Homo sapiens: one gene and its partners. The protein of the gene in region 1 interacts with the protein of each later gene in a pairwise test. Each region holds a gene or a part of one and is shown in the gene's direction. Other genes may lie near its edges. The genes, in order: BANP, FOXR1, FOXM1 and PNRC2.

Evidence for each region.
Region 2: the proteins of BANP (region 1) and FOXR1 interact in binary tests that used the Homo sapiens proteins (3 or more experiments, as listed by UniProt).
Region 3: the proteins of BANP (region 1) and FOXM1 interact in binary tests that used the Homo sapiens proteins (3 or more experiments, as listed by UniProt).
Region 4: the proteins of BANP (region 1) and PNRC2 interact in binary tests that used the Homo sapiens proteins (3 or more experiments, as listed by UniProt).

Annotation. Positions count from the first base shown.
Region 1 is NC_000016.10:88,073,404-88,077,816, forward strand, and holds the end of BANP (protein BANP), read left to right. Parts: intron 1-3,186; coding exon 3,187-3,258; 3' UTR 3,259-3,913; downstream 3,914-4,413. UniProt on the Homo sapiens protein: Controls V(D)J recombination during T-cell development by repressing T-cell receptor (TCR) beta enhancer function. Binds to scaffold/matrix attachment region beta (S/MARbeta), an ATC-rich DNA sequence located upstream of the TCR beta enhancer.
Region 2 is NC_000011.10:118,974,744-118,981,773, forward strand, and holds the end of FOXR1 (forkhead box protein R1), read left to right. Parts: intron 1-4,038; coding exon 4,039-4,113; intron 4,114-4,213; coding exon 4,214-4,461; intron 4,462-4,698; coding exon 4,699-4,925; intron 4,926-5,746; coding exon 5,747-5,985; coding exon of another isoform or gene 5,986-6,029; exon of another isoform or gene 6,030-6,113; intron 6,114-6,464; coding exon 6,465-6,493; 3' UTR 6,494-6,544; downstream 6,545-7,030. UniProt on the Homo sapiens protein: Transcription factor which acts as both an activator and a repressor.
Region 3 is NC_000012.12:2,874,172-2,881,140, reverse strand, and holds the start of FOXM1 (forkhead box protein M1), read left to right. Parts: upstream 1-3,966; 5' UTR 3,967-4,221; intron 4,222-4,625; exon of another isoform or gene 4,626-4,876; intron 4,877-6,615; 5' UTR 6,616-6,662; coding exon 6,663-6,969. UniProt on the Homo sapiens protein: Transcription factor regulating the expression of cell cycle genes essential for DNA replication and mitosis. Plays a role in the control of cell proliferation. Also plays a role in DNA break repair, participating in the DNA damage checkpoint response.
Region 4 is NC_000001.11:23,955,008-23,962,843, forward strand, and holds the start of PNRC2 (proline-rich nuclear receptor coactivator 2), read left to right. Parts: upstream 1-4,820; 5' UTR 4,821-4,991; intron 4,992-5,921; 5' UTR 5,922-6,127; intron 6,128-6,432; 5' UTR 6,433-6,450; coding exon 6,451-6,870; 3' UTR 6,871-7,836. UniProt on the Homo sapiens protein: Involved in nonsense-mediated mRNA decay (NMD) by acting as a bridge between the mRNA decapping complex and the NMD machinery. May act by targeting the NMD machinery to the P-body and recruiting the decapping machinery to aberrant mRNAs.

The DNA of each region.
Region 1 (4,413 bases):
CCTGTACTCTGCCCATGGGCGCGGTGGCCCCCGCAGAGGCGCGCCCTGTACTCTGCGTGGTGTTTGGTTCCACATTGTCGCCGACCTCACTGGAGATGCGCTGGAAGCACGGTGAGGGCCATGGGCGCAGAACGCACAGGCAGTGAGGAGCGGGTGGGTGGGATGGTGAAGGCAAACTCGTTCGGCAGCGCTTATTTTATGTGGTGTGAACCTTGGCCTGTCCGTGAAGAACAGTCAGGCGTGGCTGCCTCAGCCCCTGCCGAGGACGCGTGGCAGCCCCCCGTGCCGTTCCAGATAGGAGCGCTGCAGGAGGGCAGTGAGGTCCGCGCCCAGGAAACTAGATGTGGGGGCCATGCCTGAGGGCGTCCTGCTGCATTATAAGTTTCTGGTCATTTTCCGATTTCAGAATTGAACAAACCTGTGTCCCATGGTTGGTGTTTACACCCCTAGCTTCCTGTAAGCTCTCTCTGTTACCATGCCCTCCTGGCAGGCCCCAGGTGAATGATTTAATTAGGATCCATCGTAACAGCCAAGGAAGACGGCGTGCTTAAGGGGCCGCTTTCCCTGCAGAAAACCCCAGCGTGGTTGGACTTGGTGGTGAGCGGGTTTGCCCATCTGAGGCCAGACAACTGCAGGGTGCGTTAGCTTGTCACCAAGGGCCCAGCTCTCTGCCTTACCATCTCAGCTTGTCCTCAGGCTAGCTCTGCCCCACTGGGAAGTGACCGAAGGCCTTCATGGTGACTCTGCAGGCGTGACTGCACCCAACAGAGACAGGTTTCTGGTTGAGCCTCCTTATCCACATGAAGCCCCCACCCCAGTCATGCTTGGGAATGGTCTTGCATCTTGCATGGGTCAGAGCAGGGTCACGCGCTTGAGCTCGTTCTAGGAAAACCTGTGGCTCAGCTGTGAGGGCCTGGCTCTGAGAAGATGGGTTCCCTTAGGAGGGAAGGCAGGTAGCTGGCCTGTGGGGGTGGCCAATCCTCAAAGTGGAGAGTGGGGCCTGTTCCCTGGAGCAGTGGGTTGGGAGGGTAGGGGGGTGCCATTTGCAGGGGAAGACACTTGTCTTAATGCGCGGTGGCCTGTGGGTGTCACAGGCTCCCTGAACCATCTGTAGCAGAGGCAGCACCTCCACCAGCCTCTGCCCAGAACACAGGTCTGGCCACTGTCCTTGGAGGGCAAGTGAGTCCCAGCCAGCCCAGACCTGTGCCCCACTGTCCCCACCCACCCAAGTCCCCAGCTGCCTTTCCAGCTGTCTGGGGGAAGGGGCTTTGCATCCCAGGCGGTGGCCCCCCTACCCCAACCTCCCATGGCCTTCAGCCACCCACCCCAGGGCCCTGGTGTGGCTCCTCCATTCCAGCTGAGGTTCACCCCTTCCCGTTAGGCCTTCCCAGCTGTGGCCGGGCTCGCAGGAGACAGTCCTCATACTGACCCCTCATCCTACCCTGGAAGGCCCCTCCTCCATCCAGGGAACAGTATATCGAGTGTCATTTGACATTTGTCTTGAAAAAGCACAACCTGGACCAGGTGCAGTGTTTCATGCCTGTAATCCCAGTGCTTTGTGAGGCCGAGGCAGGGGCGTTGCTTGAGCCCAGGACTTCAAGACCAGCCTGGGCAACGTAGCGAGACCCCCATCTCTACAAAACGTAAAAAAATTAGCTGGGGCCGGGCACGGTAGCTCACGCCTGTAATCCCAGCATTTTGGGAGGCTGAGGCAGGCCAATCACCTGAGGTCAGGAGTTCGAGACCAGCCTGCTCAACCTGGTGAAACCCCATCTCTACTAAAAATACAAAAATTAGCCAGGCATGGTGGCAGGTGCCTGTAATCCCAGCTGCTCGGGAGGCTGAGGCAGGAGAACTGCTTGAACCCGGGAGGCGGAGGTTGCAATGAGTCGAGATTGCGCCACTGTGCTCCAGCCTAGGTGACAGAGTGAGACTCCGTCTCAAAAAAATTTAGCCGGGCGTGGTGGTGTGCACTGGTGGTCCCAGCTACTTGGGAGGCTGAGGTGGGAGGATCACTTGGGCCCATGAGGTCGAGGCGGCCGTGAGGTGTGCTTGCACTACTGCACTCCAACCTGGGCAACAGAGCAAGACCCTATCTCTAAAAAATAAAATGAAGCAGGACCTTAACTAGAGTAGAAGTTGCCAGGCCTCTTCCTCCCGTGGGCTCGGCCGTGGGCTCGTGGCTTCTCCTGGCTCTTCCTTTGTGGTTCCTGTGCCTTCCAGCTGAAGCTTCTGGGAGTGTGCACGGCAGCCCTAGAGTGGGCTCCTCCACCTGGGGCGTGTTCCGTGTGGCTGAGCTGGAGGATGAGTGACTTATTCCAAGACTGTATGTTTTTCCTTTACTTTTTTTTTTTTTTTTTTGAGATGGAGTCTGGCTCTGTTGCCCAGGCTGGAGTGCATTGGTGCAATCTCGACTCACTGCAACCTCTGCCTCTTGGGTTCAAGTGATTCTCCTACCTCAGCTTCCCTAGCAGCTGGGACTACAGGTGTGCACCGCCACACCGGCTAATTTTTGTATTTATTGTAGAGACGAGGTTTCACCATTTTGGCCAGCCTAGGCTTGAACTCCTGACCTCAAGTGATTCACCTGCCTCAGCCTCCCAAAGCCCTGGGATTATAGGCATGAGCCACTGCGCCCGACCTCCTTTAACTCATTTTAAGATAAAGCTGTGATTTCGTACTTGAAGTCCTTTTAATATCTGTAACTCGTTGACCAGAACCTGTATCTTTGAGGGAAGAATCATAGCTGCCCCGAAAATCCTTTGTTGAAACATTGGGACAGTGTTTATAGGAAGGCAAAATGGTACCTGAAGCTTCAGGGAAATATCTTCGGGAGGGCCAGGATGTTCTCCACTTCCAGGTTACTTCCCAGTGAGGCAGCGGGTTGGGGGTGGAGAGGCAGGAGCAGCTGCTGCGCCGGCCCCGGTGACGGAGTCCATGTCGGGGGCGGGCCGGGGCCTGGGTGTGCCGGAGCCTCCCTGGGCGCCAGGGTCGTGGGCGCGTCGTTCCGCTGGGAGCCAGGCGTTGTGTACCAAGTCGGGTGAGCCTTGGGGCCGTCAGGGCTCCTTCGCGCTCCTGTGTGCGTGTTTCTCATTCTGCCTTAAAGTCACTGGCTGTTCATGACACCCCCTGGCCATGCAGTGCTGGGTATTTTTCTAGAAAGTCCCTCCTTTCTCCCTTTTGCAGACGGCCGAAGCCCTGCAGCCCACGCTACAGCCGGAGATGCAGCTCGAGCACGGGGCCATCCAGATTCAGTGAGCGGTGCCCATGGCACCAGGAGCCCCTCGCCGGCTCCGCCTACGGCCCGGCCCCCACGCGCCCTGCTCTCACGGCCTCGGCACAGGCAGCGGCTGCACGTGTTCTGCTGAAGTGCGTCTGAAGGCCGCTGCCTCCGCGGGGAACAGCATCCTATCAACTGAAAGAGCAGCCGCCGCCGCCCCCAGCCGGAGACCCCTTTCGTTTGAGTCCTGCTGTTGGTGTCGGAGCACGAGGGGAGGCACGGTGCGGAGAGCGTCGCATATGCGCGGGAAATCAAGAACTATGATATTTTTCTGTTTAAACAGCTTTTTTTAATTTGCTATGGTGTTTATAACAAAAAAGAAAATTTGAAAAAAAAAATCCCAGGGGAGTAGCAGGAGCCCTTTGCTGTGTGCTCTGTCCAGTGTCATGAGACGGGAGCCCTTTGCTGTGTGCTCTGTCCAGTGTCATGAGACGGGAGCCCTTTGCTGTGTGCTCTGTCCAGTGTCATGAGACGGGAGCCCTTTGCTGTGTGCTCTGTCCAGTGTCATGAGGCAGGTGTTTGCAAAGCCAGCTCTCGGTTCCGATGGGGTATTGCTGACCTACTTTTCTAGGGGAAATGCTCTTAAACACTGTAATTATGCATTTCTAATGAAATAAAATGTATTTATGACCACAGCAGCCTTACGCTTTTCCTCCTGCGAGACGGTTCGCCAGAGAGTGCCTGTCCCTGGGGGGTTGGGCTCGCTGGCCTTCAGGCCACGCTGCTGCCCTCTCCACTGTGCAGACAGTAGGTGTGGGCACCCCGGGACAGTCAGTTCTGTTTCCGTGTTGTAGGCACTGCCGAGGGGAAACCTGGTTTAGGACACAGCTGTGGAACTTCTTGTTCTCATAAACCACAGAGTTCTGCCAGCTCCAGAAGGCACAGTCCTGGGGTCCTTAGAGAAAGTTGCAGCCACAGGGGCAGGCCCTACTATTTACAGATTTTTTTAAGGCAGAGATAATATCTGCAAATAGAAGTGCCAGAGGCAGTTGAATCCCTGGTGACCAGCCGGGCCTGGACTGCTTCACCTACACCGTTGTGGCAGTTGCGTTAGGGGCTTGGGAAGGGCCTACGTGAAGCCGTGTTCGCTGACTTAGAGCGGGGCCTCTCTGGGCTTTCTCTGGGAGGAGTTC
Region 2 (7,030 bases), on another chromosome or scaffold:
ATGGTAGATTGGGCCAGGGTAGTAGCAGGGAGAACCAGCTGGCTATGCTGATGGATTGGATATGGCGTATAAGACAGACAATTGAGTATGAGCCTTCAAAGTGTTTTGACCTAGTGGAAGGATAGAGTTGCCTTGTACTGAGTGGGAGACAGGTTTAGGAAGGAAGATCAGGAATTCTGTTCTGGATATGCTGAGCTGGAGATCCTTAGACATCCAAGTAGAAGCATTGAGTCTGCAGTTGGATACATGAGCCTGGAGTTCTGGAGAGAAGTGGGGACTGCAGATGTAAATTTTGGGTCTTTTGGTATATGGGTGGAACTTAAGGAGTAAGAATAGAGGAGGAACAAGAATGAGCCCTGGGGGCAGTCCATTGTAAAGAGATTGGAGAGAAGAGAGATAACTAGCAAAAAAGACTATTGAGAATCAAAACTAGGGCGTCTGTGGTATCCTGGAAACCAAGTGGAAAAAGCCTTTCAAGGAGGGAGGGGTTGGATGAGTGGAATGTAAGTGATGATTGGACTTAACAAAGCAGAGGTCCCTGGTTAGTGGTTTTAGTAAGTGGTAGAACAAAAAACCTGACTGAAGGGGGTTTAAGAGTAGAAGGAGGGGAAGTAGAGGCAATGTGTTATGCCTCAACAGGAAATAAGATGGGATAATCTTTTTCTTTTTCTTTCTTCTTTTTTTTTTTTTTAGAGACAGGGTCTCTATCTGGTGCCCAGGCTGGACTGCAGTGGCACCAGCACAGCTCACTGCAGTCTTGAGCAGCCTTGAGCAGCCTTGAGCAGCCTTGAACTCCTCGGCTCAAGTGATCCTCCTGCCTCAGCTTTCCAAAGCAGGCTGAGATTACAAGCATGAGCCACTGCACCTGGTCCCTAAAATGGGAGAATTAACAGCATGTTTGCATGCTGATGAGAATGACCCAACAAAGACAAAAAATTAGTGACACAGGAAAGAGAGGGGAAGATTTGTGGAACAACATCCTTGAAAAAGCATGGGGGATCTGTGCCAAAGAGAGACACAGACATACAAAGGTGCTATCCTTGGGTCGCAATGAGATCACCAGTCCATTGATCCTATCACCTTTTCACTGTTTCAATCACTTGATATGTCCACCCTTATTTAACTAACTTGAATCCCATGGTCAGATATTACGCAGGTTCCCTGGATCATCTGTGGCTTTGGAGCACTTTGTTGGCCAAACCACAACCCTGACTAAATCCACCTCTGCCAAACGAGTGCGCCAAAACCATAATTCAGTGGACTGGTGACCTCAGTGGGATCATAGTTGGGGTTGAGGGAGTTAGCCAGAAAGACACGAGGTGGTGCGTTTTTATGTGGTGCATAAATGAGGTTACGGAGAGGTTGCAGTTGTTGGTTTAGGTTATGCCTGAGGGAGTGTCCACAGTAGAGTAGAAGTCAAACTCGCTGGAGAAGAGTTCAATAAATAGCAAAGATCATGTTTTTGTTTTTGAAGCAAGGTCTGGCTTTGTTGCCCAAGCTGGAGTGCAATAGCGTAAGCTTGGCTCACTGCAACCTCCCTTTTCCCGCTCAAGCCATCCTCCCACTTCAGCCTCCTGAGTAGCTGGGACTACAGGCTCACGCCACCACACTCGGCTAGATTATTATCTTTGTATTTTTTATAGAGATGGGGTTTCACCATGTTGCCCAGGCTGATTTCAAACTCCTGGGCCCAAGCAATCCGCCTGCCTAAGCCTCTTAAAGTGCTGGGATTACAGGCATGAGCCGCTGCACCTGGCCAGCAGCCAAGATTTAAGGCAGGAGTAGTGTTGGAGAGTGACAGCTAAACCAGGAGGTCAGTAGATGGTAGTAACAATGGAGATTGATTAGTATATAAGTTCCTGTATTAACTTGAATATATACATCCAGGAGCAGACAGTAAGGTCGAGTAAATTGTGGTCCTGCCTGATTGCTCTTAACAAGGGCTGCTCCAGTTGATACACAGAACTGCAGTAAAATAAGAGATTCTGTCTCTTTGCATGTTTCTCAACACTTGGTATTATCTTTATAATTCCAGTCAATTTGATTATCTCATTATCTTACAGTGTTTTTCGTATTATTAATAATGCTGATCATCTCGTTAGCCATTCAGTTATCCCCTCCTTGTGAATGCTGATTCATATCATTTGTCCATTTCTAAGTTTGTGTTGACCTTTTACATATTGATTTGTAGGAGCTCTCTATGTATCAGAGAACTGAGAAATTTGGATTGAAGTTTTGCTATTTTGTTTGTTTGTCTATTTGTTTTTTGCTTATGGTGATTTTTACTATGTTAGAACTTTTTTTTGAGACAGAGTCTTGCTGTGTCACCTAGGCTGGAGTGTAGTGGCACGATCTCAGCTCACTGCAACTTCTGCCTCCCAGGTTCAAGTGATTCTCCTGCCTCAGCCTCCCAAGTAGCTGGGACTACAGGTACACACCACCAAGCCCGGCTAATTTTTTGTACTTTTAGTAGAGATGGGGTTTCACCTTGTTGGCCAGGCTGGTCTCAAACTCCTGACCTCAAGTGATCCACCTGCCTCGGCCTCCCAAAGTGCTGGGATTACAGGTGTGGGCCACCGCACCTGGCCAAACTTTAATTTTTGTGCTATAATATGTGCATAAAACTTACAGATTCATTTTGAGGGTAACTGGCATCTTAATAGTATGTATTATAAGTCTTTGTTCAAGTATTTTAAGTTCTTTATTTAAGAGCTGAGATGGGAAGATTGCTTGAGTTGGGAGGTGGAGATTGCAGTGAGCCGGTGTCACACCACTGCACTCCAGCATGGGCAACCAAGCAAGACCCTGTCTCCAAAAAAACCCCAATTTTTCTATCTTTTGCTACTTTTTCCTTTTTTGAATACTATGTTGAATATTAGCAACATAATAGGCATCCTCTCTAATTACTGAGCTCTCCGATAAGTATATCATTTCTCAAACAAAAGCCTAGATTCATCTGTAATATAATGACACTCATAGGGACAGTGAGGGGGCAAAAATAGTTTTTGTCCTGAACAACCATTAATGGTGGTGCCACTTGCTAAGACAAAGAATACAGGAAGGCCAGGCATGGTAGCTCACGCCCGTAATCCCAACACTTTGGGAGCCCGAAGCAGGAGGATTGCTTGAACCCAGGGGTTCGAGACCAGCCCAGGCAACATAGACCCTCATCTATACAAAAAATACAAAAATTGGGCTGGGCGCGGTGGCTCAAGCCTGTAATCCCAGCACTTTGGGAGGGTGAGGCAGGCAGATCATGAGTCAGGAGTTCGACACCAGCCTGGCCAATATGGTGAAACCACGTCTCTACTAAAAAATACAAAAATTAGCCGGGTGTGGTGGCGTGCGCTTGTAGTCCCAGCTTCTTGGGAGGCTGAGGCAGGAGAATCACTTGAACCTGGGAGGCAGAGGTTGCAGTGAGCCAAGATCGCGCCACTACACTCCAGCCTGGGCGACAGAGCGAGACTCCATCTGAAAAAAAAAAAATACAAAAATTAGTGGGGTGCAGTGGCATGTACCTGTAGTTCCAGCTACCTGGGAGACTGAGGTGGGAGAATCTCTTGAGCACACCACTGCACTCCAGCCTGTGCAACAGAGCAAGACCCTGTCTCAAAAAAAATACAAGAATACAGGAGGAAGAGCAAGAAGATGGAATTCAGTTTTAGAAGTGCGTTTGAAGTGCCTGTGGGCTACCCAAGTAAAGACATCCAGTAGGTAGTTCTCCTTAAGGGCTAGCACAGAATGCTAGGCTAGAGGTGAAGATTTGAGAGCTCTACATTTTTTTATAGATGTTAACTGAAGCCACGGACATGCATGAGATCATTCAGGGATAGTATACGTAGAGTGAGAAGAAAAGAATGCAGAGGGGAATGAGAAGGTCAGAGAGGTAAAGGGAAAACCCGTAGAAGTAGAATGTGATGTTAACTCCCAAGGCAGGGCCCACAACCTTCTCCCAGAGAAGCCTTAAGGCCTAGGATCCTAGGGTCACAAAGGGATATTCTAGGATGTTTTGACTCTCTCTGTCTTTCTTTTTGCCAGTTGCCAGGTATAAACTCCGAATTGTTAAGCCACCAAAATTACCCCTAGAGAAAAAACCCAACCCTGATAAGGATGGTACGTATTGAGTTCTCTGACCTGTTTCTGTGGCCTGGGCTGGAGACCAGGGGCACCCAAAGCCAGTGGGCTGTGGCACACAATCTTTTGTTCTGCACAGGTCCAGATTATGAGCCCAACCTCTGGATGTGGGTAAATCCCAACATTGTGTATCCCCCTGGAAAGCTGGAGGTCTCAGGACGTAGGAAGAGGGAGGACCTGACAAGCACACTCCCCTCCTCTCAGCCACCCCAGAAGGAGGAAGATGCCAGCTGCTCAGAGGCCGCAGGGGTGGAATCACTGTCCCAGTCCTCCAGCAAGCGGTCTCCCCCTCGGAAGCGGTTTGCCTTTTCCCCCAGCACCTGGGAGGTATGCATTTTTGGGGATGGGAGTGGGACTTGGGCAGTAGGCGAGGGGCATGGGGAAGAGCCATTACAGTTCTGCTCTCTTAGCCATAGCAAAAGGTGAATGGGTTCAGAAATTACCTACATGCTTGGGTTGGGGAGAAGCCCAAATGGTGGCCTTAGACCACCCCCCCTTCCTGCCACTGCACCCTGGAGTAGAGGCTGAGGAGTCAGGACCAGTTCCTACTCTGTGCTCCTCTAGCTCACAGAAGAGGAGGAGGCTGAGGACCAGGAAGACAGCTCCTCTATGGCTCTCCCATCCCCTCACAAAAGGGCCCCCCTCCAGAGTCGGAGGCTTCGGCAAGCCAGCAGCCAGGCGGGGAGGCTCTGGTCCCGGCCCCCTCTCAATTACTTCCACCTAATTGCCCTGGCATTAAGAAACAGTTCCCCCTGTGGCCTCAACGTGCAACAGATCTACAGTTTCACTCGGTATGTGCCGGGGGCCCTGCGAGGAGGGGGAAGTGGGGGCCAGGGCCCCGGGCTGATGCCTTCCAATCCATCCCAGGCCCTGGGTTGCTGACCTGGTTTCCCTATCTGGGTCTGAGAGGACAAGTATGTTCCCAGTTCCCTTTTCCCAGGTGCATTTGTGCCCACATTGTGCCCACATTTTATGGCTTTAGTTTTTTTTTTCTTTTTAACAAGTTTTCAGTGTTCTTTGGGTATAGTTCTCCTTTAAAACATACATTCACTTGGGTCAGGTAACAGTTTCCCCACCATCCTCTGAAGATCAGCCAGTCTAAAGTCAGGTTTCCCCAACGGTTCCCACCTGCTTCTGCTAGGACTGGACTGCCTGGCACAGCTCCCTGCACCCCCAGGGGTGCAGAGAACCCAGTTGAGAAGGATTTTCCATTTAGCTCAGATAGTCCTGCTCACAGGAGGGTGAGGAAGGGAGTTTCTTGGGCCCTTTCCCAGTGTTAGGAGAAGTGCCTAATGTCTCAGGACAGGAATTTTCAAGTGGTGTCCGTCCTCAACCAAGATTCCTCTTACAGGAGCTGCTTGGCCTGATTCTGCTTTGTTCATGCTGTGGTCCAAGCCCTGGGCCCTCAGAGGGAGGGAGGGTTCAGGTGAGCCACGCACCACGTGGATGCTTTGCCACGTGCTCAGTTAGCAAAGAGCAACTCCAGGCCAACTTGCTACTATCCCCCTGGAGAGAAGGGCTAAAGCCCCTGGCCCCTGGGTAGAACATGCCCCAGAGAAGGGCATTCCCCAGACATAACATGCCTTTCCTTACCTCTCCTCCCTGTCCATAGAAAGCACTTCCCCTTTTTCCGGACGGCCCCGGAAGGCTGGAAGAATACTGTCCGTCACAATCTCTGTTTTCGAGACAGCTTTGAGAAAGTGCCTGTCAGCATGCAGGGCGGGGCCAGCACACGGCCTCGATCTTGCCTCTGGAAGTTGACCGAGGAGGGACACCGCCGCTTTGCGGAGGAGGCCCGCGCCTTGGCTTCCACTCGGCTAGAAAGTATCCAACAGTGCATGAGCCAGCCAGGTGTGAAGACTTGTTGTGCGTGGGCCCAAGGGGAAGAGACCTGAGGATCCTGACCCAAGGCCAAGTGTGGAAGCCTGGGTCACACCGTGGGGGTGGGGGAATGCATCTTCTATAGGAAACAGGGAGATTAACAGTGATCTGAGACCCTCAGGTGATGCCTGCCTGAGGTGAGACCTCCCCCACCAGTGTGGGGCGTGATGTGCCAGGAATCCATGGGCAAACAACTAAGGGGCAACTGGCCTTACCAAGACCAGCAGTCTAGGCAATAGTGAGCACACAACATGAGAAGCACAGTTAATAGAGGTTATGTACAAAGAGTACTTCTACTTTCCCTGGAGCAGTGCAGGGAGGCTTCAGAGAAGAGGCAGCATTTGAGCCTTGAGTGAAAGAAGCAGATGACCTGCTATGAGAGAGCATCCCAGGCCTAGGAAACAGCAATTGTGAAGTATAAACTCCTGAACTCTCTCCTTTTCTTACAGATGTGATGCCCTTCCTCTTTGATCTTTAACCCCAAGAAGCAACAGCCAGCTAATGCTTTATTAAAATTACCCTCACTAGCCTTCTGTGTGTGTCTGTGGAGGTGGGGTCTCTAAGGATGGGGTTAAGGGTGGAGGTGGAGATCAACTCCAAGGTTGGAGATGGAATGCCTTCAGCTTACAGATGCTCCTGAGGCAATGGGGCAGGTGCCTGCCGTGCAGCAAAGGGAGTCCGTAATTTTCTTTCCTCAAAGGAGGAAAATGCACAGCCTTCTAAAGCATCTTGGAGCAATTTCCATTTTTCTGGATTATGAAGATAATCTTGGCTGGATGCAGTGGCTCACACCTGTAATCCAGCACTTTGGGAGGCTGAGGCAGGAGGATCCCTTGAGCACAGGAGGTCAAGGCTGCAGTCGGCCATGATCACACCACTGCACTTTAGCCTGGGCAACAGCAAGACTCCATCTGTAAAAATTATTCTGGGAGATGCCCGTTTGTAGCAGCCAATTCTGTAAGCACCACACATTCATTCAATTGATACTCCTTAAGTGGCTACTGTGTACCAAGCT
Region 3 (6,969 bases), on another chromosome or scaffold:
ACAGAGCGAGATTCAGTCTAGAAAACAAACAAACAAAAAGCTACCACAGAAATCCAGTGAAAAGATAACAGTGGTAGCAATGGCTATAGTTTTGAAATTCATGACTTGCTGAAAGTCATCAGCTTCAAATGGGTACGTTGCTCAGCAATCCTGTTTCCTTGATCAACTCATTCTCCACAAAGATTATCTTAAAACTTCTCCAAGCTAGGTGCAGTAGCTCACGCCTGTAATCCCAGAACTTTAGGAGGCTGAGATGGGAGGACTGCTTGAGGCCAGGAGTTCAAGACCAGCCTGGGCAACATAGAGAGACCTCGTCTCTACTACAAATTTAAAAGAATAATTAGCTTGGCATGTTGGCATGTACCTGTAGTCCCAGCTACTTGGGAGGCTGAGGTGGGAGGATCACTTGAGCCTGGGAATTTGAAGATATGGTGAGCTATGATCGTGCCACTGCACTCTAGCCTAGGTGACAGACAGACCCTATCTCAAAATAAATAAATAAAGTGGAAATTTTGTTTGTTTGTTTTGAGACAAAGTCTCACTCTGTTGCCCAGGCTGGAGTGCAGTAGCGTGATCTCGGCTCACTGCAACCTCCTCCTAGGTCCAAGCGATTCTCCTGCCTCACTCTCCCAAGTAGCTGGGATTACAGGCGCCCTCACCACGCCCAGCTAATTATAGTATTTTTTAGTAGAGATGGGGTTTCACCACGTTGGCCAGACTGGTCTTGAACTCCTGACCTCAGGTGATCTGCCCACCTCGGCCTCCCAAAGTGCTGGGATTACAGGCGTGAGCCACCACGCCCAGCCTGAACATTTTTATTTTAATTTTTAAAATTATTTTTAGAGATGGGGTCCTGTTCTGTTGCCCAGGCTGGAGTACAGTGACACGATCATAGCTCACTGCAGCCTCAAACTCTTGGGCTCGAGAGATCCTCTTGCCTCAGCCTCCCGAATAGCTGGGAATACAGACAAGCACCACCACACCTGGTTAGTTTCTTATTTTATTTTTTGTAGAGATGAGGTCTTGCTTGAACTCCTGGGCTCAAGTGATTCTCCTCCCTCAGCCTCCTGAAGTGCTAGGATTACATGTGAATCACCACACCCTGCCCACTTTCTTAGAACTTCAGAACACCCCTTTTCTCTTAACAAATGACTTTACTTCCTACTTGACAAAGAATACAGAAGACATCAAAGGAAATACTCTCATTTTCCAGAAAGCAAATATACAAACCTATGCGTATCAACATCTATCTTCTTTCTGCTCTAATTAGAGGTCAGTTCATTCTGCTGTCTAAGTCCTTCCCCTCTGGTTGTGCTTTGGAGCTGTTCTCACTCTATATACTTTTCTTAGGCAAACTCATCTGCCTGTATTTCAGTATCCACCTAGAAGTAGATGACTTCAATATTTATATATTTTAGAATTCCTTAAGTTTGGGACCCAAATATCCCATTACCTACCTGAACAGCAACTAGATATTTCAAACGCACCTCAAATTCAACATGTGTAAGGCTGAGCGCAGTGGCTCACGCCTGTAATCCCAGCACTTTCAGAGGCCGGGGTGGGCAGATCGCTTGAGCTCATGAGTTTGAGACCAGCCTGGGCAACACAGTGAAACCCAAATTCTACAAAAAATACAAAAAATCAGGTGGGCACGGCTGCGTGCACCTGTAGTCCCAGCTACTCAGGAGGCTGAGGTGGGCAGATCACTTGAGCCCAGGAGGTGGAGGCTGCAGTGAGCCGAGATCGTGCCACTGAACTCCAGCCTGAGTGACAGAGCCAGAACCTTGTTTCAAAAAAAGAAAAGAAAAAAAAATTCAACAAGTTTAAAACTGAACTTGGCCGCGCACAGTGGCTCATGCCTGTAATGCCAACACTGTGAAAGGTGAAGGTGGGAGGATCACTTGAACCGAATAGTTCAAGATCAATCTGGGCAACAGAGTGAGACCCTGTCTCTACAAAAGATACAAAAATTAGATGGGTGTAGTGGCATGTGCCTGTAGGGGGTCCCAGCCATTCAGGAGGCTGAGGTGGGAGGATCACCTGAGCCCAGGAGGTTGAGGTTGTAGTGAGCCAAGGTCATGCCACTGGACTTCAGCCTGGGGGACAGAGCAAGACCCTGTCTCTAAAAAATAAAAAGATAAATAAAAATAAATATATAATTAAAAAAAAAACTCATTCTGAGCATTGCTTTGTAGTAAAAAAACAAAAACTGAATTCACGATCATTCCCCTGACAACCCCCCGCCCGTCCCTTGGCCAAAGTGATTATCTTCCAGGGCCCTTGGTCAGGGAATAGTGTCATTATTCCTTCAGTTATGCAGCTGAAAATCTTGACACTTCTACCTCCCATCCAACCCACCATCAAGCCCTGTCAACTTTACCTCTTAAACATGTTTTCTTAATGCCCCTTTTTTACTCTCTCTGTCTCCTTCTTTCTCTTCCTCTCTCTCTCTCCCTGCCACCCTTTTTCAAGCTCCAGCAGTTCTTGCCTGGAGTATTGCAACATCCAACTGTTCTGCCCTAATCCACTCTAGCAATCCCCGCTATAGAGGGACCTTTTAAAATGCAAATCTGACCTGGATTCACTTCTGCTTAAAGCTTATGACTGGTTTCCTTTAATTCTTGGATAAGCACAAAACTTCTCGGTATGGCTAAGGCTCTGCTTCCTCCGGCTCCAGCTTCAACTCACACCACACTCCATTCAGGTCGATTAGCTCAAACCCCTCAGATATTTCTCAGCCTTTGTACTCACTGTGCTTCCTCCTGCCATCCAGCCTTTGCACGCCTGATTCCCTCTGCTTAGAGGAGTTCCCTCCTTTCTTTGTAAAAGGCATCAGATCTCACACCAAGCTCTCATTACAAAAGCCTTTCCTGTCCTACCTCTCAAGATCTCGTTATTGTAAATACTCAAAGTATCATTAACCTCTAATGTTTCAATTTACAGCAATAATTCAACATTTGTTTGTTTTGGAGACGGTGTCTCCCTCTGTCGCCCAGGCTGGAGTGCAGTGGTGTGATCATGGCTTACCATAGCCTCCACCTCTCGGCCTCAGGTGATCCTTCCACCTCAGCCTCCAGAGTAGCTGGGACTACAGGCACGCACCACCACGCCCGGCTAATTTTTAGTAGAGAAGCGGTTTCGCTATGTTGCCAGGCTGGTCTCGAACTCGTGACCTCAAGTGATCCACCCGCCTCGGCCTCCTAAAGTGCTGGGATTACAGGCGTGAGCCACTATGCCCAGCCCACATTTGTTTATTTGATTAAAATGTCTGTGCCCCTCTTCCAGGATTGGGCTGTGAGCCCAGGGGAAGGAAAGAACCTTGTCTGCCATTGTATCTTCAGGGCCTAGCGGTGCCTGGCGCACAGCAGTTGCTCAACTAGACTGGTTGACTAAGTCAATAAATAAAGCACTACGGTCTATTATATCCGAAGGCTTGGCTTCGGGAGGGGCAAAAGACAGGTTTCGCGCTGAGGTAGGGTTCATGGTGCCGACATTTTTTTTCAAGATGGAAGAAAGCGGAGATAATACGCAGCCCTCAAAGGAACTTAGTCTAATCGGGGGGAGCAGACGATCGTTCACTGTGGGAAAATGGGGTACGATTTCCCCCAGTGAGGAAATCAACTAAAGCCGAGCTTTGAAAAGGGGAGCAGAGGAGCCTGAGGGGAAGCGGGGGCGTGTCGCCTGGCGTGACCAGCGCGGCAGGAAAAGCGGGCCCAGGGACCCGGGCCTGTCACGCCGCTTCCGCGCGTCCCCAAACTCTCCCTCGGCTCGCCCACCCACGCGGCGGGGACCCCTCCGGCCCCTCCCCGGCCCCACGGCCACTTCTTCCCCCACAAGCCGGCCTGCGGTCCGCCTTACCAGCCCGGGCCGGACGGGGCCGCAGCTCCTGGCAGACCGCACAGCCTTCGAGCCCGGAATGCCGAGACAAGGCCGGCGCCGATTGGCGACGTTCCGTCACGTGACCTTAACGCTCCGCCGGCGCCAATTTCAAACAGCGGAACAAACTGAAAGCTCCGGTGCCAGACCCCACCCCCGGCCCCGGCCCGGGACCCCCTCCCCTCCCGGGATCCCCCGGGGTTCCCACCCCGCCCGCACCGCCGGGGACCCGGCCGGTCCGGCGCGAGCCCCCGTCCGGGGCCCTGGCTCGGCCCCCAGGTTGGAGGAGCCCGGAGCCCGCCTTCGGAGCTACGGCCTAACGGCGGCGGCGACTGCAGTCTGGAGGTGAGCGGGATGCAGCAATGGAGTCCCAGGCCTGGCCTGGGCACAGGCGGGGAGCAAGGCCTCCGGGCGCGGAGGTCAGGGCGTCTAGCAGCAGGGCACGGGCCACGAGTGGAGATTTGGGTCACACGGGAAGAATCTGAGCCAGGGTGCAAGTTTTTTCTGCGTCCACCTCCTGGCCGTGGCCTTCTCACTGCTTAAAGCGCCCCTTGGCCTTCCCTGGAAGTCTGACCTCCGCACCCTGCCCGCGGCCTCGGGAGGGCTGGGGTGGCCTACCTTCTTAGGCCGACTGTGGCTGAGATGAAGACTGAGATTGTACTACATTGAGTCAAAGACCAACCTGCATACACACTCCCCTGCTCCCAGGCTGTCTCACCACTAGGCAACACCGCCTCCATCTTACTTACCCTTTTGCAGGGCCCTTTTCCTGGTTCTTGAGAATGTAGCAAGATTTCCCCGCTCAGGATGGGGATGGGTCGGAGGAGCCACTCTGGAAGTTTCCCGGGCAAGAAAGTGTTGGCAATAATAATAACGGGCTGGTCAGGAAGTAGAAGAGAAAATTAAGACTTAGATATCCTGTGGAAAAAGAGGAATAATATCTACTGATTGATGCGGGGAGAGAGGGAAGCCTGGAAAGATCGGAGGTGAAAGTAAAACTGAGATTTGAAGGTAGAGGTGTGGAGGGCCTGTGAACTCTATGCAGATGACAAATGTCAAAAAAGTGCAGTTGCTTTTCAGGGAGAGAATAAGTGTCCTAAAAAAGAGACAGCCAATTCCTCTGTCTTCCAAAGTTCCGTGAAATAGAATTACACAATTTTGCTTAATGGTAGAATATTCCATGTATCTATTAAAATCAACAAAAGGCCGGGCGCAGTGGCTCACGCCTGTAATCCCAGCACTTTGGGAGGCCGAGGCGGGTGGATCACCTGAGGAGTTCAAGACCAGCCTGGCAAACATGGTGAAACCCTGTTTCTACTAAAAAAAAAAAAAAAAAATTAGCTGGGCATGGTGGTGCATGCCTGTAATTGCAGCTACTCGGGAGGCTGAGGCAGGAGAATCGCTTGAACCCGGGAGGCCGAGGTTGCAGTGAGCTGAGATTGCGCCATTGCACTCCAGCCTGGGTGACAAGAGCGAAGCTCCGTCTCAAAAAAAAAAAAAAAATTAAAAAAAATCAACAAAAGACTTAAAAAAAAAAGACTACACTGTTAGCATTTCAGAACCACCTTAGTGTAATGATGATAGCTCATTGTGGTACTAAGAAGACAGGGGTTATAGTCTTATTTCTGGAAAAGAAATTAATAAAGTGGCATGCTTAGTTAAAATATATATAACCACATGCAAGTACTAAAATGCCACTGTATAAATACAATACAAATTGTAAAAGAAAACATGCTTTTTAAATTAGAGCAAGTATAATAGCCTGTGAAATAAATGTCACCCTCTAGAGTTGTTCAGTGCACAAGCTGCACAACTTTACATGGGCCTTCAGTAGAGGTTTCCATTTTATGTGAGGTTTTGTAAACTGGGAGATGATTTTTCCAGTAGTGTGGCAATAGTACAATCTGCCTTTCTTCCCTGATTCTGTGTGCACTGGTCCTATTTACAAAGTAATATAAAAATCAAAAGGCTTGGCCAGACGCGGTGGCTCACGCCTGTAATCCCAGCACTTTGGGAGGCCGAGGCGGGCAGATGACCTGAGGTCAGGAGTTTGAGACCAGCCTGAGCAACATGGTGAAACCCTGTCTCTACTAAAAATACAAAAACTAGCCGGGCGTGGTGGTGGGCACCTGTAATCCCAGCTACTCAGGAGGCTGAGACGTGGGACTCGCTTAAACCCAGGAGGCAGAGGTTGCAGTGAACTGAGATCGTGCCACTGCACTCCAGCCTGGGTGACAAAGTGAGACTCTGTCTCAAAAAAAAAAAAAAAAAAAAAATTAAAATCCTTTGTCTTGAATGGATTATGGGATCAGAGTTTCATCAGGACTCCTAATTACCATATGCTTTCCTATTCTAGCATCTTCCATTTCTGTCCATACAGTCATTGCAAGTGATCTATTTATATTATAGTAGGCAATTATAGAGATTTCCACATATTTGTAGCTATCCCATCCATTTCTGTAGCCAAATATTCTGAAGCTTCAAGGAGATCTTTGTCTTATCTCCAACCCAGTCCCATTTTTGCCCTTTGAATTGCTTCTGTCTGCTGTAATTTTAGCCTTCTTTTGTCAGTAAAGCTTATCTCCTTATTATCTGAGGTCTTTACAAAAGTCCATGGAATGTTTACCTGGGCCTTTAGGCTCATGTTCCTGGTCATATAAAGAGGAGCACCTTTCTCTAAAAGGACCTCTTCTCAGCCTAAACAATCTCTAACATCTTGCCACTATTTGCATTTTCCAGGGTCCACACTTGTGATTCTCAATGGAGAGTGAAAACGCAGATTCATAATGAAAACTAGCCCCCGTCGGCCACTGATTCTCAAAAGACGGAGGCTGCCCCTTCCTGTTCAAAATGCCCCAAGTGAAACATCAGAGGAGGAACCTAAGAGATCCCCTGCCCAACAGGAGTCTAATCAAGCAGAGGCCTCCAAGGAAGTGGCAGAGTCCAACTCTTGCAAGTTTCCAGCTGGGATCAAGATTATTAACCACCCCACCATGCCCAACACGCAAGTAGTGGCCATCCCCAACAATGCTAATATTCACAGCATCATCACAGCACTGACTGCCAAGGGAAAAGAGAGTGGCAGTAGTGGGC
Region 4 (7,836 bases), on another chromosome or scaffold:
TCCTTCATAAACATGCCTCCACACCAGGGGATTGCCCTTAGCAAAACTGAAAGCAGTGATTCTCAACTGGAGTGAGACATTGGAATCAACTGGATTGGAATAGCCGCAGCCCCGTGCTCAAAGATTCTGATTCTGGGATGGGGTCTGGGCATCAGAATCCTTTAAGGGTCTTGAAGGTTGGACCCCTGGATCAGCGTCGACAGGAGGCGTGGGAGTTCATCATTGACTTCCTGTGCCCCGTTTAGTAATTAGACCAAAATGGCTGCAATGGTTAAGAACAGATTTGACACTTCTCAGGAATGTCTGAGCAAGCAGGGAGGCAGCAGATGCTTCCCCAGGAAATGAATTCATGGTGTGGGGAGGGGTGTGTGTTTTGCAATCAGTTTGGCAACAAGATCAGAGCTCTGAGGCACATCGAAACAGTGGGCAGGTGTTCCATTTCACTCTTCTGGCAGGTTCTAAGAATTTGCTTGCTTCTTCAAACTGAATTAAGCCCTGAGCGGACAGACCTGCAAAAACATTCAAAGTTGACCATCTGATTTCATATATGAGCTTAAAGAAGAAAAAGAACCAAACCAGCTTTTGTTTTGAAATGGACTCGCTAGGGCGGGGGTGGAGTTGGGGGATAATATTAAAGTACCTAACGTTTTTAGCATGTTCTGTTTATTTTTGAGACAGGGTCTTGCTCTGTTGCCCAGGCTGGAGTATAGTGGTGTGATCATGGCTCACTGCAGTCTCGACATCCTGGGCTCAAGGAATTCTCCCACTTCCGCCTCTCAAGTAGCTGGGACCACAGGGGCACACCACCTCCCACTCCCAGCTAATTTCTGTAATTTTTGTAGAGATGGGGTTTCACCATGTTGCCCAGGCTGGTCCTGAACTCCTGGGCTCAAGTGATCCTCCCGCCTCTGCCTCCCAAAGTGTTGGAATTACAGGTGTATTCTAAATCTACATCATAAAAGTGCTTTTACATTTATTATTTCATTGGCTCCTACCATGAGCTCTACAAGACAGGGAGGATTGCCATTCTACAGATGAAGAAACTGAGACTCAGCCTGAAGGCCAGTCGATTCTACTATATACTTATTCCAAAGCCATGGCAAACCTGGGTGATTTCTCCAACTACCCCGGCACTGGTGCAGTTGTATGCCTCAGCCTACAACCTGTCTCTCCCCCAAAGCTGGGCTTTCAGAAACACTTTCTTTTTTTTTTTTTTGAGACAGAGTTCTGCTGTTGTTGCCCAAACTGGAGTGCAATGGCGCGATCTCGGCTCACTGCAACCTCTGCCTCCCGGGGTCAAGCGATTCTCCTGCCTCAGCCTCCCAAGTAGCTGGGATTACAGGCATGCGCCACACGTCCAGCTAATTTTTTGTATTTTTAGTAGAAACAGTGTTTCACCAAGTTAGCCAGGCTGGTCTCGAACTCCTGACCTCACGTGATCTGCCCACCTCGGCCTCCCAAAGTGTTGGGACTACAGGCGTGAGCCACTGTGCCCGGCCCAGAAACACTTGCTTTTTGCTCCACCTCTACTTACAGATTAGGTAGATAATGTTTTCCTAATGATTTCATTGATTTTGGTTGCCACTGATACATAGCTCAAAACAGATCCTCCAGTGAAAAAATTTCAGCAAGTTGTGAGAGTCCCCCTCCTTTTCTACTTTATTTGCAGGGTCCAGTAACAATGTTTGTTACCTGCACCTCCTGAGTGAGGTTAGCAGGCTGATTTTGGCCTTGCCTGTCCTTGACTCTCAGGGGAAGAAGGGAGGGAATAAATCTTCCCAGACACTAGTTTCCCTCTCTGGTAAATTGTAAAGGAAACAGCTTTTGGGTTCCTTTAGGGCCAGGATGGAGCCTCCTTCACTGCTGTATCCCCAGAGCGTGGCATAGTGCCTGGCACAAAGTAGGCACCAGATAAATCTTTGCTAAATATTTTGTATTAAACATCCATGTATTTATTATGCATTTGGCTTCCAGTTTAGGTGAGCTGTATCCTGAGAGCTGTTTGTCGGCATCAACATTTTCCTATTTGAATTGAGAACTGCTAATAGGATTGTGCTGGTGGAGCTGAGTTTAAAGACCATATGGTTCTGGCAGAGGCTGTATCAGATGTCCCAAAAAAGGTATTATTTTAACTTCTCCTCTCTAGTTCTGAGCTGTTGCGGGCACTTGGTAAATACTAATGAATGATGAGGCTGGAGCTAGCCTGAGAGGGTGCTGGGAGTCTGGGACGCAGTAAAAGCTTTAACAGTGCTTTCCCCAAGGGCATCTCGACTCTGACCTTCTGGCAAAGAAACTGGTTCTGCCAGATGGTAGGATGGAGGCTTCTTGTTGCCCGAACAGCCCCGGCAGCCCAGTCAACAGTCAGTGTCTGCTCTGAGCAAAAAACCTTTTAGGTGCTGGAGAGCACAGATGCTGCAGGCAACCTGCAGCCTGGCCTCTTGAATCCTAGTACCTGGCTTTCAACTCGAAACCGTCTGAGCCTTCATCTGTACAGTGCGGATGAAAACAGCTCCTACCTCACAACATTATTGTGAGGATTAAATGAAATGATGTAAGAAAAAAAAATTTAGCACAGGGTAGGGGGCAGAGTAAGGATACTCTGTGTGGGTTTATACATTTCCAATGTTATGTGTGCGTTTATGCAGATAAAATTCAGAGTGGCTGAAGAGATGAATTTTTTTTTTTTTTTTTTGAGACAGTGTCTTACTCTCACCCAGGAGTGCAGTGTTGTGATCGCAGCTCACTGCAGCCTCTACTTCCTGGGCTCGGGTGATTCTCCCACCTTAGTCTCTCAGGTAGCTGGGACTACAGGCGTGTGCCACCATGCCCAGCTAATTGTTATTTGTAGAGATGGGGTTTTGCCATGTTGCCCAGGCTGGTCTCAAACTCCCGCGCTCAAGTGATCCTCCTGCCTCGGCCTCCCAAATTGCTGAGATTACAGGTGTGAGCCATGCCCTGCCATGAAAAGACTAACTCTAGACTGCAATGGCTTTGAATAATTTTCTAAACGTTTAGAGTTTAGATTTTATTCCGTATCACAATTTGGAGCCACGGAAGTGTTTTTTTGTTTGTTTTTTGTTTTTTAAAGTGACACCATTAAAAATTCATTAAATACAGCTGGCTATTATCTGGCTAGACGTCTAAGCAAACTTCTTGAATGTTTGGAAAACAGATTACACTTTCACTAAGACACCTGTTGGTTTACCACATACTTCTTATTTGAATATGATTAGCATCAGAAAGTCCCTATGCTCAAAAATACCTCTTTTATCAAATTAGATTAACAAACTGCATCCCGTAAGATGCAGTAACTTTTCTTAAGATCCAATGGCTAGAATATAGGAATTTGGGTTGGATTGGGAAGTGGGGGATAACGGTGGCAAAAAATTGAAGATTAAAAAACGAAATACAGGCCGGGTGTGGTGGCTCACGCCTGTAATCCCAGCACTTTGAGTGGCTGAGACGGGCGGATCACGTGAGGTTAGGAGTTTGAGACCAGCCTGGCCAACATGATGAAATCCTGTCTCTACTAAAAATACAAAAATTAGGAGGGTGTGGTGGCAGGCGCCTGTAATCCCAACTACTCAGGAGGCTGAGGCAGGAGAATCGCTTGAGCCCAGGAGGCGGAGGTTGCAGTGAGCCGAGATTGTGCCACTGCACTCCAGCCTGGGCGACAGAAGGAGACTCCGTCTCAAAAATAACGAATTACATGAGATTTATAAAAAGTTGGTAAATATAAATTCTGTAACGTAAACTTGGGTATATATGTGTATACACGAACAAACTGTGAATGAGACTGATTTTGTACCGTTTGGCCCAGAATTATTCACGCTCATTGAAATTAGTGCTCTTTTAAAAGATTCACATTGGGTTACTTATACATTTACTCCAAAGAAATTGCCATTTTCCCCTTACCTGCATCTGGCTGGCATAATCAACTGAACAATATTCTCTTTCTTCCCCTTTTTCACTTACAAGTGGGGCAGAAAGGGGAGGAGAGCAGTCCTCATTCTTTCAGCAAACTTACTGTGCACTTACAACGCGCGAAGGCGCTGTGCTCAGAGAAACAAAACCTAACCGGTTGTGGCCCTCGAGGGTGTGTGGGTGGGGAGAGCTGCAGCCACAGGAAACGGTAACACGGCGCGTAAAGGGCTCTAATTGAACTTAAGGACCAATGGGGCCACCAAGCAGGAAGTGACTGACTTGCCCGCGTGTGTCTGAACCGCCTTCACAGGGAGGCAACTTTTGAGTAATTGCGGGGCTGGAGGGTGGGGGCACTGGAGGGAACCGCGGGGAGGCGCCGGCTTCGGACGCGGAGTTGTGGGTGTGGGAGAGAGGCGACCCAGAAGCCGAGGCCCGAGGCGGGAGGGGGCTGCGCCCTGGCAAGAGGCTTTCCGGAGTATCTTCCATCTGTCAATACAGGCTACAGGACTCAGTGGCCCTAATTCGAGAACCAAACGTCCCCCGCCGGTCAGTCTTTTCCCCCAGGGCAGTCCCAAGGGCGGCGAGCCCGCGCGCACGAGAGCCGAGCGGTAGGAAGAGCCGAGAGCTAGCGGCCGGGGCCTCGGCGGGCCAGGGGCGCGGAGAGGCCGCCGGAGAAAGGACTAAGACACCGGTGGACCGAGCAGTTACTCCCGGCATGCTCCTCCTCCCCGGGCAGATTTCAAACCCTCTGCAGCCCCACCTCCGCGCCTTCGCCCCCGGCCAGCCCCAGCAACAGGCGGCGGCCCGCTTCTCATTGGCCAGGCCCGCGCTGTCGTGTTTTGATTGGCCGCGGAGCCTCCCGGCCCTGCTTCTGCAGTCGCTGCCGACTCCATTTTGTCGGTAGAGGCAGAAGGAGAAGGTCGGGTTGTAGAAGCTGGGGTGGCCGGCAGCTCGCTCATCGGTGTTCGTGGGCTTTGTCGGTCCGTGCCTCGTCTCTCCCTGGAAAGGGAGGGAGGCTTCGACGTCGAGAGGGAGCCGCTGCCGCGTTAGTTCCGAGCTTGAAGTCAGTAAGTAGCGGCTGCGCTAAGGGCGCGGCCATGTTGGTGGCCGCGCTCCCCATTGTTGGAGGAAGGAGGCGAGCGGAGGCGAGATCCGGGTAACCCGGGCGGGCGCGGGCGGTCACGGGCGGTCGCAGCGCCGCGACCCCTGCGGCTCCGGAGAGATGGGGCCACTGGGAAGCCAAGCCCTTGTGGCGTCGGAGGAGGCGTTTTCCGGGTTCGAGTTGGGAATTACTCACAGTCCGGAAATGGCAATTTATTTAGGGTTGTTTATCTGTTTGGAAAGCTCTCTTACCCCTTTGAAAGGAGGGGGCTTAACTATTTGGTAACTTATTTTCTTGGAACATCAAATTAAAACCAAACCTTGAAAGTTAAGCTGTTCCCTCTAGGGAGACATTTTTATATATTTAAGATGGGCTTAGACTGTTAGGGCTTGTGAGAACTTATTTTAAGACGGGGAGGAGGCGAGAGCGTTCATAACCAAAGGAAACACTGCGTGATGTCTACATGTTCCAAGAGACTGAAAATGGATGTGACATGTGTGGAAAGATTGGAAAATTCTGGTGGGAGTTTAAAAACACGGTCTCTTTAGAAAATCCGCCTGAAGCCAATTTTTTGATATGACTCAACATTTAACACTTCCTTGATTTTATACGCGAGAGAATCTGAAGGTCTTTCCCAGGAAAAAGATAAAGATAAAACTTATTGCGGGACTTGGAGACACTTACAAAAATTCCCCAGGAGTGACTGGATCTCAAGGGTGAAGAGTTTTTTTAAATGGTCGTGGTTATAAGGTCAAAGAAAGCCATCTTACGAGAAATTTTCTACCTTTTAGTTCAGGAAGTAGCCTTCTTTACAGTCAACGATTTTCGTAGTAAATCTAAATGATCACTTTCTCAACGTGTTTTTGAAATAATGAAGTAATCTTTACTTTTCTAGCTAGGACTTCTCTCAAACTTGTGTGCTGAGGAGACTCAGATGTTGGCCTCAGCTCCTAGGCTGAACTCAGCAGATCGGCCCATGAAAACTTCTGTATTGAGACAAAGGAAGGGATCTGTCAGAAAGCAACACTTGTTATCTTGGGCTTGGCAGCAAGGAAGAGGACAGGTAGTGGAGATCCTGCAATCTGAAAAGCAGACTGAAAGGTAATCATCATAATGGGCAAACATTTTATGATGGAACCATCCTAAACCAATTGTTTTTATTTTAAAATAGATTATGTAGATTTGTGGGTAAGCTCATTTTTCTTAGGGAAGGTATAACAATAAAGGTTGTGCATATATTGAAGTCTGAACGGCTTGCTTTTTTGAGTTTAAAGCAGCTGAATAGCCTGTTATTGAGTCTTGTCCAAAATATCTGGAGTTATAAGTTGGAGCCATAGAAGCTTCTTAAAGATTTTGAACTTTTCTTAATGGAATTTTACTCAATATTTGTTTCCATTCACTTGTAGGTGACAAAGAAGCTGAAGATGGGTGGTGGAGAGAGGTATAACATTCCAGCCCCTCAATCTAGAAATGTTAGTAAGAACCAACAACAGCTTAACAGACAGAAGACCAAGGAACAGAATTCCCAGATGAAGATTGTTCATAAGAAAAAAGAAAGAGGACATGGTTATAACTCATCAGCAGCTGCCTGGCAGGCCATGCAAAATGGGGGGAAGAACAAAAATTTTCCAAATAATCAAAGTTGGAATTCTAGCTTATCAGGTCCCAGGTTACTTTTTAAATCTCAAGCTAATCAGAACTATGCTGGTGCCAAATTTAGTGAGCCGCCATCACCAAGTGTTCTTCCCAAACCACCAAGCCACTGGGTCCCTGTTTCCTTTAATCCTTCAGATAAGGAAATAATGACATTTCAACTTAAAACCTTACTTAAAGTACAGGTATAAAATAAGACAAATGTTTAAATTTAGTTATGTTCACGGATAGTTGTCAATTGGTCTGAAACAAATTCGCTAGGGAATCTATTTGTGTAGAACTAATTAATGTAAAAAAAATAGACCATCTCGTGTTGTGTGCACTGTGATATAATGGTAGTATCAGTGCAACTTAAACTAATGATTGTACTTGATATTAAGTGTTCTCAACTGAGTAACTTTTAAGTGGAAACCAAGTTTAGATTTGGGGAGTGGTAAAGGAATCAGCTTTTTCTATTGTTAGGGGAAGACAGTAATTTATCATTCATGGACCAGTAGATTGTTGAAAGTTGGTGAATCGGATTATAAGCTTCTAGCTAACACAAGGATTCAGAATTAGGTAAACATCTGAAGGTTTAGTATATTAGAAACACCCAAACCAGTAATATGCTAACCTGATGCACTGCTGAAAGAAAATGTGAATTTTTCGTAATAATTGCATTTTAGTGAATTGTACAGTGGGTGGAAAGGGCATTTGGAGCTCATTAGAATGAGACATAGTACACCCCAATGGCCCTGTTTATTAAATGTAGTGGATTAAGTGTCTGTCAACAAATACACCAAAACCATTTTTTATAGAAACAGTATTTAATGGTCACTCAATAGCTTTCAAAATACATTTTTGTATTACAGCACTGCACAAGCTATTCTAATAGTGCTCTGGCCTCATCATTCCTGCAAAGCTTGCTTTGGGGAGTTGGATAATGTGAAAATTTTAAGTACCTAGGGGAGAAAGAGCCATGTAAATATCTGTAATAAACTTGTAGCATATGTAAAGTTTTCTTGGCCTTTATCTTACAAAAATGGAGTATTTTAGTATGAATTTGCTGAATGTAAGACCGTGGACTGTTTTTTATAATATGGCCTAATTTTAAAGGTCCAAAATAACTTGTTTTTAAAGTTTGCCCTTGTGCTAAAGTGCCAGTGTATGTATGTTAT